4 linked regions of the Homo sapiens genome follow. The protein of the gene in region 2 purifies or fractionates together with the protein of the main gene of each other region. This does not show direct contact. Each region holds a gene or a part of one and is shown on either strand. Other genes may lie near its edges.

Region 1 (3,500 bases), on a different chromosome or scaffold from region 2:
CTGTCAACCTTTTATTGGGAGTGGAACACATGAGGTTCAGCTCGTGCCGGGCACTGTACATTCACTGAAGCAGCTCAAGGGGCTCAGCCCCGACACTGACGCCACACTGAGCAGGATGCACGGCCCGGGGCTCACACTGTCCATGGAGGAGGTGGGGTCAGCCCGAGGTGGGCGGATGGTGGCCCGAGACACCGAGAGCTTGGTTCTGGGACTGTGGCTCAGCTGACCCGTGGCACAGCTGCACCTAAGACATGGCCCTGGCTAGGCGGGAACAGCTCACAGTAGCGATACATTCACAGGACACAGTTGGTGTCCAGAAAAGGGGGCTCAGAACACAGTTTCTACACAAGCACTTGGCACCCACACGACAGAGACGTCACTCAAGCAGCACAGCCACAAATAGTTTACAGCAGCTCATGCCCGGCATCCGCCCATGCTGGGAGACTCCCTGAAAGGTGGGCACCTGCCGTCTATGAGGAGGTGTCTCCCTCCATCATTAACCCCAAACCACACAATGTGTGAGGAGAGCAGGCCTCTGGGTGAACTCACACATTCATACCCAAGGAAGAGGCAAACACACTCAAGTCCAGAGTTCCCAGTGGTGCCGCCCAGACCTACTGTCCCGGGGGTGTTATGGCTGTCCCTCGGCTTCCCCAGAGCAGCCAGGACAGCCTGCACCGCCTCCCAGACTCTTGCAGGAAGGGGAGCTCTGCCCTGGGGAGGAAACTGACAGGCTGGGAGACAAGACTCCCATCGCAGGGACATGCACAGCAGCAGCCACAGCCCCGCGGACGGGGCATGGGGATGGGACAGGCAGGGAGCCACACTGCCCCCTCAGTGTGTGCCTGTGGTTCTGTCCTGGTCCTGCCCACTTGGAGCCCAGGCAGACAGGTGGCATTGAGCAGGGCCCAGGTCCAGACAGCCCTCTGGCCAGATGTGACTGGAAGAGGCTGATGCCAGGGCAGCACCAGGCCTTCTGCAAGTCCCAGAGCCAGTGTGCAGAAAGTGCCAGCACGGCCTGTGCTGTGGCTCCTCAGGATGAAGTCACGTCCAGGACAGGAGGGTTTATGCAGACACACAGACACTGCTGACGGGGACAGGGATGGCTCGGCCACTATGAGGCTGGACTCTTCTGTCTGTTCAGGGAGTCGATGTAATGAAAAATGGCCCCCAGAGCCCAGCTGGTCTCAACATTGTCAATTTTCCGAGTGAGCTTGAAAAGACAGAGAGGGAGAGGGGACCATCACACAGACAGGAAAGCCTTGTGCATCAGGAGGCTGTGGCTCCTTGGAAGCCAGGGATGGGCTGGGGGACATGACCCCAGCAACTGGAGAAGTGGTTCTAGGCCCCTCACTCCATAAAGGGGCTGGGGCGTGACCTGAGGGCACCCTTACCTTCAGCACTTTGCTCCTGGGAAAGCCGAACTCCTGGAGTAGCAGGCTGACGTAGGTGAGGTCCATGCATGAGAAGGGGCTGCTCTGCGGCTGTGTCTCCAGGGTCCGACACACTGGGGATGAGACACGTCCCTTCACGCTCCAGGTGACTCCCACCTGGGGGCGGAGGGGCAAGTGCAGACCCCAATTCCACCCACTACAGGCACCCGCTGGCTCCGCACTCCGGATTCACAGACAAGGCCGCAGCTGAGCGCAGAAGGCACCCAGTGCACAGCACAGGCAGGTGGGCGGCAACCCCGGCTGCCACTGGGTCTGGGCTCCAAGGGGATTTGCACGCCTGGTGTTAGGGTCATGGGCCAATGTCTCCCAAGCCACATTTCTACATCTAAGACCCTGGACACCTCTCCCAGGTGTCAAGCTGCATAAAACCTAAGCTTTCTGGGGAAAGAAAACACCAAAGCCAGCTCAGAACAATCCACTCCTGCTCTTGAGGAAGGACAAATCCACCAAGAGCTGTCCTGGGATTCTGCTCAAAGCCTTTTCCTGCTGTAGTTGTGGATACCCAGTGTCCATGGGCACAAATGGGAAAATGACACAAAAGCTTTAAAAAAGCCACTTTTGGGGGAGGGGAAGGGTAGTACTTTTTCTGGAAAGATGTACAAATTTGAGCTCTTTGGACCCACACATTGGGAAGGGCAACCAAGAGCAGGACATGTTCACCAAGGCTTGGCTGCTGGGCCAGGCGTGAAGGAGACAGTGGAGAGGCATAGTGTGTGGCACAGGGTCTGCTGGGCTGGTCACCTGCGACCCCGGGGACAGCCCTCCACCCCACATCCCAGGCTCCATTCTGTAGGGCCTTGGCTTCTTAAGGGTTGTGTGACAATCATGAACTTACTGGGACATCCCAGGGGAAATCACTCTTGGGGTTACCCTAGTAGCAGTAAAATGGCATCTGAGGAAGTGGAATCGAGGGACCCAGTTCCTCACGACCCCATGAGGGTGGGACAAGGACGGTGGTCCTTTCTCAGCTGGGGCCGAGGCCCCTGCCTGTGGCCATTGTTTAGGAGGGGCTACACCCAGGAGAGTCAGGGCCAGCGCCTGCGTCACGAGCATCACGGGGCGCCTGCCCCTGCTGAGATGGCCCCTGCAGCATCACTCACCGTACTTGGCTGCGATCTCGAAGTCCCCCACCACCAGGCTGCCTCCCTTCTCCGCATCTGTGGGAGACACAACACCCAGTCTGCAGGAGCACTGTGAGGTTGGCGATGCCACTGAGACGTGAGGCTGGCACGGGGAACGCCAGCCCAAGAGCCCCAAGGCACTGACTGGCTTCTGAGGCAGGCCCTCCAGCTGTAGGCGGCACTCACGTGCTCTGAGGACGGCTTCTGGGTGATGTGGTGTGGGGTGGGTTTGGGGGCTGAGAGGGTCACCCCACAACCCAACCCTGCAGTGTCCCCCGAGAAAGCTCACCAGGAACCCAGGACCCCAAATTGAGTAAAATTTTAAGTTAAGAAAAATAAAAGTAGAGAAATTGAAATGTTTCCTGAAGCCATAGAACTGAGCTCAGCAACAGTATTCTGGTATCAGTTTCCTAAATGTAAAAAAAAAAAAAAAAAAGTTCTTGAAAAATACACTGAGGGGTGGTTTATTGGTGGCCTTCCACCTTGACCACCCACCTTCCACCCAGGCCCAGTCAGTGGTAGCTTTGTCAGCACAGAGACCCGCCGGAGGCTGCAGGGCCCAGAGAGCCGGCACCGTGTCAGCTTATTTAAAACAGTAGTGTTCTTATCCGTACCACAGGCCATACATTCTGATGATCTCACCATGATAGTGACTCTGCAACCCCCTCCAGAGTTCCCACACAGCCTGACCACCACTAGCCTCAGCAAACTCTGAATACCTTTTTCCGCCCTAATCTGGCTTCCTGGGCTGTGCAGGGTGAGTCAGAGAGACTCCACATTCAGTGAGCTGATCCCTCCCATGGGTACAGGGCAGCCACCTGCAGGTCACAGGAGGCCTCCTGTAGCCAGGGCTGCAGGGTAGGGCAGAGTGGCTGAGTCTGAGACAACGTGGGCCAGTGCAAGGCAGGACCTGCCTTCCAGCAGG
Region 2 (3,927 bases):
TGGAGCTGTCACTCACAGGGGCAGGTCCTTGGCTGCTGACTGTCTTCCTCTCCACTATGGCTGTCTTGAGAACTTAGGGGTCAGCCTGACCCTGCCTTGGCCCCCTTCCTCTCAGCCTCTGTCTTCTCCTGCATGAGGCTGGGTGGCTCCCCTGTGAATCAGGCAGGGGTCCACAGAACACTAGAGACAGGTCCCTTCCTGCAGCTGTCTCCAGTAGGTGGCCACGCAGGAGATGTTCCCAACAAGCTGCCCTTATCTGCAGCTCAGCTTTGGTAATGGGGGCCCATTACCAAATGGGGGTAAAGGTCATGGCCCATCCTGGTGATAGTGAGAACCCAAGGTAGGCCTTGAAGATTCCTATCAGGAGGGAGCAGAAAGTGTGTACCACACCCCTGGGCCCAGGTGGAGCAGGGCTGCTGCTCAAGGCTCCCAGCCATGCTCTGTCCCTTGCTAGGGGTGACCGGTGGGACAGGCCTGGGCAAGGGACAAGAGGGAGAAGGTCGGGGGGAAGAGGGGATGAAGAGCAAAGTGAGCAAAGGAGAGTCTTCCACTATCTGGGGTCTCTGTCAACTGTCAGGCCCTAGAGTGAGCTGTTCTTTCCCTTTGCTTCCTGGAGGAGGGGACTTTTGTCACTGCGTCACTCCACCCTGCCTGCCCCTCCGTTATCAGGCTGTTAATATTAATTAACAACAGTTGCTAGGGATGACAGTGCAGAGGGTTCCTCTGAGCCCATTGCTGGCCCTGGTCCCAAGAGGGGGTAGGGCAGAGCTGGGGTCTGAGGCTGAGCCAGGGAGGGTGCGGAGGTTCCTCGGCCATGCTGAGCTCCTGAGGCCGGGTCCCAGCCAGTGCCTGGTCCCATCTGTGCCTCCAGGCCCTGGCACCAACTCCAGCAGTGTTAGGGGCTAATAGCGTGGTCTCTCCCCTAGCTGACTCAGCCCTCTGGCTTCGGTCGCTTTGGGAAGTGAGTGGAGACCCTAGCACCTGCGTGATGAGGCTCATCTAAAGCGGGGGCCTGTGGACTGGGGCCAAACAGTGGGAGTGGTGGATCATTAACCAGCAGGGCTCAGCCTCATTGGTCCCTAACCCAGTCAGGCCAGGGTTGTCATCGAAGGGGAGGAGGCTGCCTTAATGTGTGTTCAGCCCTTGGCTGTTCCTGAGGCCTGGCCTGGCTCCCCGCTGACCCCTTCCCAGACCTGGGATGGCGGAGGCCGGCCTGAGGGGCTGGCTGCTGTGGGCCCTGCTCCTGCGCTTGGTGAGTCCCAGGGCTTGGCTCCACCTCCCCTGCGGCCTCCAGTTAGGGACCCTGGGGCCAGCCGTGTACCAGGCGAGCGTTACTGGGTGACAGCAAGGGAGCCTCAGGGCCTGCGGGCTGGGCAAGTCTCTGGACACATGAGGGATGCCAGGCCCCACAGAGGAGGGGTGCAGGTGGAGGGTTTCCAGGTTACAGGCTTGAATGCACACAGGGGTGAAAGAGGCTGCTGGACTGGGGTGCTCCAAGTCCCTCCTGTCACTGGCCCTACTGTGGGGTCCAGGCCTGCAGTTGAGGGAGGTCTGAGGCAAGGAGGTGCTGGGATGGGGTTACCTGGTGAGCATCACCTAGGGAGGACTGAGCACTCTGGAGGCTGGGAGAAGATCCAGCGCTGGCACCTCTTAAGTTCCTCGCTTACTTTGTGTCTGGGAGGTGGGTGACAGCTTTTGGCCTCAAGCAGGTGGTGGTAGTGGTGGTGGGAGTCGGGGGGCCTCCTGAACAGACTCTCCATGAGAGACCCTGGCCTCTGGATGTGGTGTACAGTGTGGGGACTCAGGCTGACTTTGACGTGGGCAGAGCCCGGGACCTTGGAGTCAGCTTTGCCTCCTTACCCATCTCTGGCCTCTCCAGCATGACTTTCCTAAGCTGCAGGTCTATCAGGCCACCCCCAGGAAGAAAGGCCAGTGTTGTCACTCCAACACTGGCTGGCTGGCACATGCCTCCAGGAGGCTTCCTACTCCCCACACTCCCCGCTTCCCTGCCCCTGCTCCATGTCCTTCTTACCCTCACACCCTCCCTGGCTGCCTGCTGCCTGGATGGCACCCAGCTGTGTCAGGGCCCACGCGTGATGTTGCTGTGCTCTGCAGGCCCAGAGTGAGCCTTACACAACCATCCACCAGCCTGGCTACTGCGCCTTCTATGACGAATGTGGGAAGAACCCAGAGCTGTCTGGAAGCCTCATGACACTCTCCAACGTGTCCTGCCTGTCCAACACGCCGGCCCGCAAGATCACAGGTGATCACCTGATCCTATTACAGAAGATCTGCCCCCGCCTCTACACCGGCCCCAACACCCAAGCCTGCTGCTCCGCCAAGCAGCTGGTATCACTGGAAGCGAGTCTGTCGATCACCAAGGCCCTCCTCACCCGCTGCCCAGCCTGCTCTGACAATTTTGTGAACCTGCACTGCCACAACACGTGCAGCCCCAATCAGAGCCTCTTCATCAATGTGACCCGCGTGGCCCAGCTAGGGGCTGGACAACTCCCAGCTGTGGTGGCCTATGAGGCCTTCTACCAGCATAGCTTTGCCGAGCAGAGCTATGACTCCTGCAGCCGTGTGCGCGTCCCTGCAGCTGCCACGCTGGCTGTGGGCACCATGTGTGGCGTGTATGGCTCTGCCCTTTGCAATGCCCAGCGCTGGCTCAACTTCCAGGGAGACACAGGCAATGGTCTGGCCCCACTGGACATCACCTTCCACCTCTTGGAGCCTGGCCAGGCCGTGGGGAGTGGGATTCAGCCTCTGAATGAGGGGGTTGCACGTTGCAATGAGTCCCAAGGTGACGACGTGGCGACCTGCTCCTGCCAAGACTGTGCTGCATCCTGTCCTGCCATAGCCCGCCCCCAGGCCCTCGACTCCACCTTCTACCTGGGCCAGATGCCGGGCAGTCTGGTCCTCATCATCATCCTCTGCTCTGTCTTCGCTGTGGTCACCATCCTGCTTGTGGGATTCCGTGTGGCCCCCGCCAGGGACAAAAGCAAGATGGTGGACCCCAAGAAGGGCACCAGCCTCTCTGACAAGCTCAGCTTCTCCACCCACACCCTCCTTGGCCAGTTCTTCCAGGGCTGGGGCACGTGGGTGGCTTCGTGGCCTCTGACCATCTTGGTGCTATCTGTCATCCCGGTGGTGGCCTTGGCAGCGGGCCTGGTCTTTACAGAACTCACTACGGACCCCGTGGAGCTGTGGTCGGCCCCCAACAGCCAAGCCCGGAGTGAGAAAGCTTTCCATGACCAGCATTTCGGCCCCTTCTTCCGAACCAACCAGGTGATCCTGACGGCTCCTAACCGGTCCAGCTACAGGTATGACTCTCTGCTGCTGGGGCCCAAGAACTTCAGCGGAATCCTGGACCTGGACTTGCTGCTGGAGCTGCTAGAGCTGCAGGAGAGGCTGCGGCACCTCCAGGTATGGTCGCCCGAAGCACAGCGCAACATCTCCCTGCAGGACATCTGCTACGCCCCCCTCAATCCGGACAATACCAGTCTCTACGACTGCTGCATCAACAGCCTCCTGCAGTATTTCCAGAACAACCGCACGCTCCTGCTGCTCACAGCCAACCAGACACTGATGGGGCAGACCTCCCAAGTCGACTGGAAGGACCATTTTCTGTACTGTGCCAAGTGAGTCCATGGTGGGGCCCAAGCGAGGAGTGGGCTGGGGCTGGGGCTGGGCTGCCATGGCCTCCTGGGAACCTGGCCGGGCATACAGCTGGTCCTGAAGGACCAGAGGTAGCTATTCCTACGGCTCTGGCCTGGGGCCGCCCAGATGATTATCTCTGCCCCTCGTCCGGCCGCCATTTCCTTTGGTCAGAGTTCCTGCTCATGGCTGCAGGTTTGTGCGTGGCCATCGCTGGCCCTTCAACCCCGAGTCCACTCTGTCTTTCTGCAGATTTCTTGACATGTGGGA
Region 3 (3,500 bases), on a different chromosome or scaffold from region 2:
AACAAACACTCCCCTCCACCAAAAAAATTACACTGGCTCATCAGTAAATCTAAACAGCCTATACTAATTATTGTTCTTGGTTAAAAAACACAATTACAATATCCCAAGAATTATATATATGTTTATGAAATACCAGGTCTGGAATTCTTCCCTAAGAAAAACTATCTGAATTAAGACATTCACTGAAATAACTACAAACAAAATGTGGCAACAACCTAATGTGAACTGTAAGGAAGTAGAATTGAACAACTTATATTATGGTTATTTAATGGATTTAATATGCAACTACCTAGAATCTTGGTTATGAAAATTACATAGCAACTCTGAAAAAAGCAGAATATAAAACTACACATATTATTACAATTGTATTTTTTTAAATTGGAAGAAATATATTAAGATGCCAAATGTGTTTTATTAGGTTTTTTAGCCTTTTCTTCTAAATTGTATCATTTTCATTAAAAAAAATTTACACGATTACGAACTTACCACTAAACAAATGCAACATCCATTTTCCCTAATAATTTGACAAATTTTTATCTTTTTAAAGTGAAAATGTAAGAGACACAACATAGAAAATATAAATAGAAAATATTCACTTAAAAAACAAGTTTCCCATCATCCAAGTTAGCCCCTTCCTCAAACTTATACCACAATCTCGAATATGTCCTTCCAGAAATGTATATATACAAGTGTATATAATGACTAACATTGATAGTGCTCACTTTATAATTCACTAAATCTGTTTAACAACTCTAGGACAGAGATGGTTTATCATTCCCAAAAAACTGAGACAGAAACGTCTATGTCCTTACACACATACACCCCACTAAATATAAATGGAGAACACCCTACACAACTAAGTTTAACTTATTATATCTTGGTGATTATCCCATATCACAACACATAAATTACCGCAATCTTTTTTACAGCTTCAAATATACCATCTAATGCTTGGACTATTATGTAACAAACTCCGTACTAATGAATATTTGGGTGGCTCCAGTCAATTAGAAGAAAAGCCACAATGATCCTTTTACCTGTCTTTGCACACATGTGCAACGCATGTGTAAGATAAACTCAGACAATGCATCAATTTTTAAATACAGAGCTTGAAGCATTACTGGCACAAATGTAACTTGATAAAGCCTCCTAATATTAGACTGTGTGTATACCAGAAAGGGTAGCATATTAAGAATAGCAGTAATGTAAGACTGTTCTTAATTTTATTGTTTAGGTCATATTCAAACTACCTACTTAAGGCATTAACAGCTTTTCCTAATAGGAATTAAGTACCACTTTATAAGCTGATTTTAATTTTTCAAACAAAATTATTTCTCTATTTAAACATTTCTGGTAAATTCTCATCTTTTTTACAGTAATCTTAAAAATTAAGATGGTAAGTTTGTACAAATAAATGTTTAAATTAAACATTTAAGGAGCACAATTGAATTAATGTACCAACGCAGTCAAAACCTGGTGCTCCTAACAAAAAATTCACTATAGTTCCAAAGTGAAGTTTTTGTCTAAGTTTGCATGGCATCTCAGAATTTCATTAAAATTATTTTAATCTGATTTAAGAGGAGCATAAGAAATTATTTTGCTTACTAAACAGAATCTGGAGGTTTCAGGATATAGACATCAATTATACCCATACAAAAAAACTAGTCTCGGTATCTATCTTTTTTTTTTTTTTTGAGAGGGAGTCTTGGTCTGTCGCCAGGCTGGAGCGCAGTGGCACGATCTCGGCTCACTGCAACCTCTGCCTCCAGGGTTCAAGCGATTCTCCTGCCTCAGCCTCCCGAGTAGCTGGGACTACAGGCACACACCACCAGGCCCAGCTAATTTTTGTATTTTTAGTAGAGACGGGGTTTCACCACATTGGCCAGGATGGTCTCGATCTCTTGACCTCATGCTCTGCCAGCTTTGGCTTCCCAAAGTGCTGGGTTTACAGGCTGTGAGCCACCGTGCTCGGCCTGGTATCTACCATTTTAACTTTCATCTAGTTACATGAAACAAATCACAGAACCTGTGATCCTGACCCAAAAGCAGGATTAAGTGACACAAAAACCCGAGAAAAATGAATAACAAAAGGGAGCAAAAAGTTCCTCTTACTAATTAATAATTAAAGTTTCTAAGTGTAGATCAGGATCACAAAAGAAAGAGGTGGAAAGAAAAACCTATAAATGATGGAAAAAATATTAGAATGTTGATGTTGTCCCTTTTTCTGCTGTCCCAGATTACATTACCCTTTTCTTTTATATGCTTTCAGCTTCTAGGATAAGAGGATGCTTTTATTAAATTTTAGGGTCAAGGTTTTAGAGTTAATTTACAAATACAACTGCATCAAATCTAGTTGGGACCATACAACTTAAGCAACACCAGCCAGTCCTGGAGTTCTCAGAAGAAAGCACTACTTAAAAGAATGAAACAGATATATATTTATAAGGAAATCTATAAAACTCTGTTCTTAGTTTGAAGAGACTGCTATAGAAAGAAGTAACTGTCAAGTACATGAAAACTTTACTAGTTAATCAAGGCAAGGTACATTTAAAATTATAAAATATAACTATATGATCAATAAGGACATTTGTTACAAACTAACAAAATTATGAAAAACAGGTAATACAGACATTTTAAAGAACAATTTAGCATGGTCCATTAAACACAAAAGGCACCTAGCTTGTACTAGCAAAATCAATTCTGGTATCTATGTTAAAGAAAACACTGGCATTAAGTATAAGCAGGTAAAAAATATTTACTGCATCAATATTTGGAAAACTGAAAATTTGGAAACATATTCCATGATCAGGAGATAAGTTGGAATGTTATACGGCTAAAAAAAAAAAAAAAACAGAACTGGATATGCCAAATCAATTAGGTTATGAAAACATACAAGTGGGAAAAAGGTACAGAATAACACTTTTTTTTTTCCTTTTCTTTTTTTTTTTTTTTTTTGGTGAGACAGAGTCTCACTCTGTTGCCCAGGCTGCAGTGCAGTGACGTGATATGGGCTCACTGCAACTTCCACCTCCCAGATTCAAACAATTCTCCTGTCTCAGCCTCCCGAGTAGCTGGGATTACAGGTGTGCACCACCATGCCTGGCTAATTTTTGTATTTTTAACAGAGACAGGGTTTCACTATGTTGGTCAGGCTGGTCTTGAACTCCTGACCTCAAGTGATCTGCCCACTTTGGCCTCCCAAAATGCTGGGATTACAGGCATGAGCCACTGTGCCCAGCCAGAATAACATCTTTGATGTAAAATAAGAACTAAACAAATTAACAAACAAAACTCCACATCCATAATATATATGTTCTACAAATTTGTATAAGTATTTTTAAAGGACTACATACATAGACACATATTAAACTCCTTACACCTTTGGGAAGAGGACAAAATTGCAGCAAGAATTCATATAGTCAAATGCTATTTTAGCTTTTATCTGTAATGTCTCATTACTTGTAAAACTAAAAATTGATAAAGCAATCATCTGGGTAGCA
Region 4 (3,500 bases), on a different chromosome or scaffold from region 2:
AACCATTTACTAAAGTTCATCAAATGTATTAGAAAAATGCAGGATTTAAATTATAAGGCCATAATTTAACATATGGGTAATGAGTGAAAGCTGAAGAAAGAAAAAAATAGCATTCTGTGAAGAGTCAGCAGCAATGACAGAAAAATAGGAAGTAAGCCAGAGCCCACAAACCAAAAAAACAGAATAAAAACCAGTCTGACAATCCCCTGAGAAGCTGGACACCCATGTCCAGAAGACCTATAAAAACAAGCTTTCTATTTCCCAACATGTGTGAGAATATGTGCTAACCTATGCAATGGAAATATAAAGAATAGTTCAAAGACTAGACAAAAGTATACAAAGGACAAAATTCAAAATGGTCAAAAGATATGGATATGTCCAGAAACTAGTCCAGGATGTCAAATGACTTTGCTCTACTGATTCTGAAGTGATGCTTTCTTAAGGGCGATTGTCTGTTTCTAGGGTCTTTCTAAAATAAAAGTCCCCACCCCCTTTTTGGACTTGAGGTATCCAAAATTGTTTTATTATTTTTGTTTGATTATCTTGAAGAGCAATCAAAAGTGTCAATGGACTCTCAGATGAAAAGCCACAAAAAGTTCAAAAACTTACAAAATTTATTAGATTAAAAACTGCTCTACTAAGAACCATCTCTAATGTGTTCTGAAGCCGAAATCTAGGAAGACAGTTACTAAAGAAACAGCCAGTAAAGGAGAAGTAGGTGGTTCCTTAAACTGTTGTTTGAAAAGAAACTCCTGAAACAAAGTCTGGAACATCGTTTTGCACACTATTGCCTCACAAGATCCTTGGCTACCCTTAACTCCACATATTTCCCCTTAAAGGAAGGTTTTGGTTTTTGTTTTATTTCATGTGTGTAAAAATTTGGGGGTAGGAAGAAAGGCTTGAAAGAGAGCATCCCACTCCCAATCCCCTTTCAGAAGAGCTTAATTAAACCCACTCGTTAAAGTTCAAAAGAAAACAACAACAACAACAACAACAATAAAAACCAAATTTCTCAAGAGTTTGAAAGCCCCAGAATGTTGGAGCTGAAAAGGATCTAATCCAATAGCTTCATTTTATAAAGAAGGAAGTGAGTCCAATAGTAAAAATCTATCAACTTTTCTAAAGTACCGTTAGCTAAATAATCTTTTGTTTACTTCAAAAACTACATTTTCACCAGTGAACTTAAAAAATATGTTGTTCCCTATATAAATTACTTTTAAAGGCAAAAACAACATTCACTGAAAGTTTTCTACAAAAAATTATATCAAAGTAATAATGGAAAAAAATCAGTATAACTAAAGTATGGTTGATATTCAAAATCACCATTATTTTTAAGGTGATCCATACCCCAAATGAGCTTCAAAACAGCTGATCAAATGCACCAGGCAGTTAAAGTTACCTTTACTTTATTCAATATCTAACATTTATTGAATGCTTACAATTTACCAGATACTACGTGAAGTGCTTTGCATGTATTATATCATTTATAAGAATAGAAAAGCAAGCTTAAAAACCATAGCTTAATGATAGTCATATACTATAAAAATAAAGTAAATCCTATTAAAACCATGATTCAGAAAATTTAAGGCAAATGAAGTTCCACAAATAGTAACATTCCCAGCTCGTCCCCCTAAACAACAAAGAGCTTTCTCCATTTCCTACAAACAAGACCATCTTCACTACTTCCAGGTTATAAAGTCAGAGATTCTGTCTGAACTTCAACAAATCCAGACAGCATCTCTCTCTCTCTCTCTCTCTCTCTCTCTCACACACACACACACACACACACACTCTCCCTTTCTGTAAATTCAATAGGTTAAATACAAATACGATGGAAAATTTATCAACAATAACTTGTGATCTTGCCAATTACTTCAACAACTCAATTTTTGAATACTTCAAGATTCCTATTTACACAATATAAAAGTCAACATAGTTCCTCTCCTCCATTTTTTTTTTCATAGGATTACAGTATACCTGGCACTAAAATACACACATCTTAGTGAAGTAAAAATGTGACGACGAGGAAAGGGTATCAGAGTAGAAGATAAAGGTACTACTAGCATTATCTTGTTGCTTGATGTTTATAAACATTTTTTAGAAGATAATAATTCTATGGGTAAACTGTTGTAAACTAGTGAAACTATCCAACAATAAGAAGAAAGCCATACTCTCATGCCATTTCATATGGGGAAATTTATATCACAAATCTTTACAGCCTTACATAGATAAGGTATGTGTGTAAACATCTTAGACACTTAATGTCTTTCACCTCTCCTTTCAAGGAATAATAGCAACTTCAATTTTTTACTGTTTTTTCAAATCAGAAGAGGTGAGTTTAATGGATTAAATTCGTAAGTATTTTTCAGTTCTTAAACACCTTATCAAAAGAAATTTTTACATGCTTATTTTGAAGCATGCTTACGATACTGGAAGTTTTGTTAAGAATACTTGGATGAAGTCAGTTCAAAGACTTTTTTTTCCCTGAAGTTGTTAATTTTTGGACAATATAAGAAAAATCTAGTTTGTCACCAGCTGTCCAAAAATTCGACAAGTAGCTCCCTCTCCTGGAGGAAAAAAGTGAGTTCCTCTTCAAGCTGTTAAAACACTTGTACTCTTAAAAATATATTTTTTAATACATGAAGCAATAGACAGCCAAATCTGAGTTTTTCTGTATCAATTAATATCCCAGTATTACTGTAAACAGCTATAAACAGTTTTATAAAAACCTGTATAAATACTAAAAATGTAGTTTCCTAGCTAACAAAGGTAATGAACATCATGGTTTGACTTACTGTACAGCAACTTTTGTACTTGATCACAGAATGTTGAGATACCTTTCATTTTGGTGGTTTTATACAATCATCAAACCTCAAGTATATTGTTCAGACTTGTAAATTCACTAGCTTTTTCCAAAGATCAAGTGATTCTACAAAGAAAGCAGCGGCTCTCTGAAAACTCTTACTTAAAAATATCTTCTTCCTCTACTTGCTTGTTAATCAGGTTTTAAAAAAATTACATGCCTATATGACTGGCTGGTACTAAAGACCCCAAAATTATATTACACAGTATGTACTCAGCTATAATTATAATACATATATTAGTATTAGTACTATTCCTGGGAACTGGGTTGTGTAAATTAAAAATGTAATTTACAAACCTCACTCTAAAACGTGGAGACATGTTTCATCACATACTAAAAACAAATTCTTATCCTATGGCCCATGTGTTTACCCACTCAAAGTAGCTGTGTCATTATGTGTCATATATAAGAAAATAATTGTGCTTTTTCAAAAAAGGCTGTTTCATCACTAAAGATGAGAACAGATAAAGAGTAAGTTTGAGGGAAAAGTTAAACAGAAAACAAGATACACGCACACTTGACTATCTCAACTACAAAGTAAACTGAGAATGCCATGAGAAGTTCAAACTTAAAAAAATATAAAACCTTCCTGCACAAAGCACAAATTTACCTTAGTGTAAATCAGATGCCAAAGTTT

The links. The genes of interacting proteins can lie anywhere in the genome.
Region 1: the proteins of NPC1L1 (region 2) and ENTPD6 purify together in Homo sapiens (affinity purification with mass spectrometry; one large-scale study listed by BioGRID and IntAct). This does not show direct contact.
Region 3: the proteins of NPC1L1 (region 2) and TMEM33 purify together in Homo sapiens (affinity purification with mass spectrometry; one large-scale study listed by BioGRID and IntAct). This does not show direct contact.
Region 4: the proteins of NPC1L1 (region 2) and DIPK2A purify together in Homo sapiens (affinity purification with mass spectrometry; one large-scale study listed by BioGRID and IntAct). This does not show direct contact.

The regions. Positions count from the first base shown.
Region 1 is NC_000020.11:25,223,212-25,226,711, reverse strand, and holds part of ENTPD6 (ectonucleoside triphosphate diphosphohydrolase 6), read right to left. Parts: exon of another isoform or gene 2,623-3,500; intron 2,612-2,622; coding exon 2,555-2,611; intron 1,551-2,554; coding exon of another isoform or gene 1,508-1,550; coding exon 1,395-1,507; intron 1,214-1,394; coding exon 1,115-1,213; 3' UTR 1-1,114. UniProt on the Homo sapiens protein: Catalyzes the hydrolysis of nucleoside triphosphates and diphosphates in a calcium- or magnesium-dependent manner.
Region 2 is NC_000007.14:44,538,531-44,542,457, reverse strand, and holds the start of NPC1L1 (NPC1-like intracellular cholesterol transporter 1 isoform 2 precursor), read left to right. Parts: upstream 1-1,127; 5' UTR 1,128-1,198; coding exon 1,199-1,252; intron 1,253-2,115; coding exon 2,116-3,641; intron 3,642-3,927. UniProt on the Homo sapiens protein: Plays a major role in cholesterol homeostasis. Critical for the uptake of cholesterol across the plasma membrane of the intestinal enterocyte. Involved in plant sterol absorption, it transports sitosterol, although at lower rates than cholesterol.
Region 3 is NC_000004.12:41,945,429-41,948,928, reverse strand, and holds part of TMEM33 (transmembrane protein 33), read right to left. Parts: intron 1-3,500. UniProt on the Homo sapiens protein: Acts as a regulator of the tubular endoplasmic reticulum (ER) network by modulating intracellular calcium homeostasis. Mechanistically, stimulates PKD2 calcium-dependent activity. Suppresses the RTN3/4-induced formation of the ER tubules.
Region 4 is NC_000003.12:143,974,823-143,978,322, reverse strand, and holds part of DIPK2A (divergent protein kinase domain 2A isoform a precursor), read right to left. Parts: intron 1-3,500. UniProt on the Homo sapiens protein: May play a role in cardiomyocyte proliferation through paracrine signaling and activation of the PPI3K-AKT-CDK7 signaling cascade.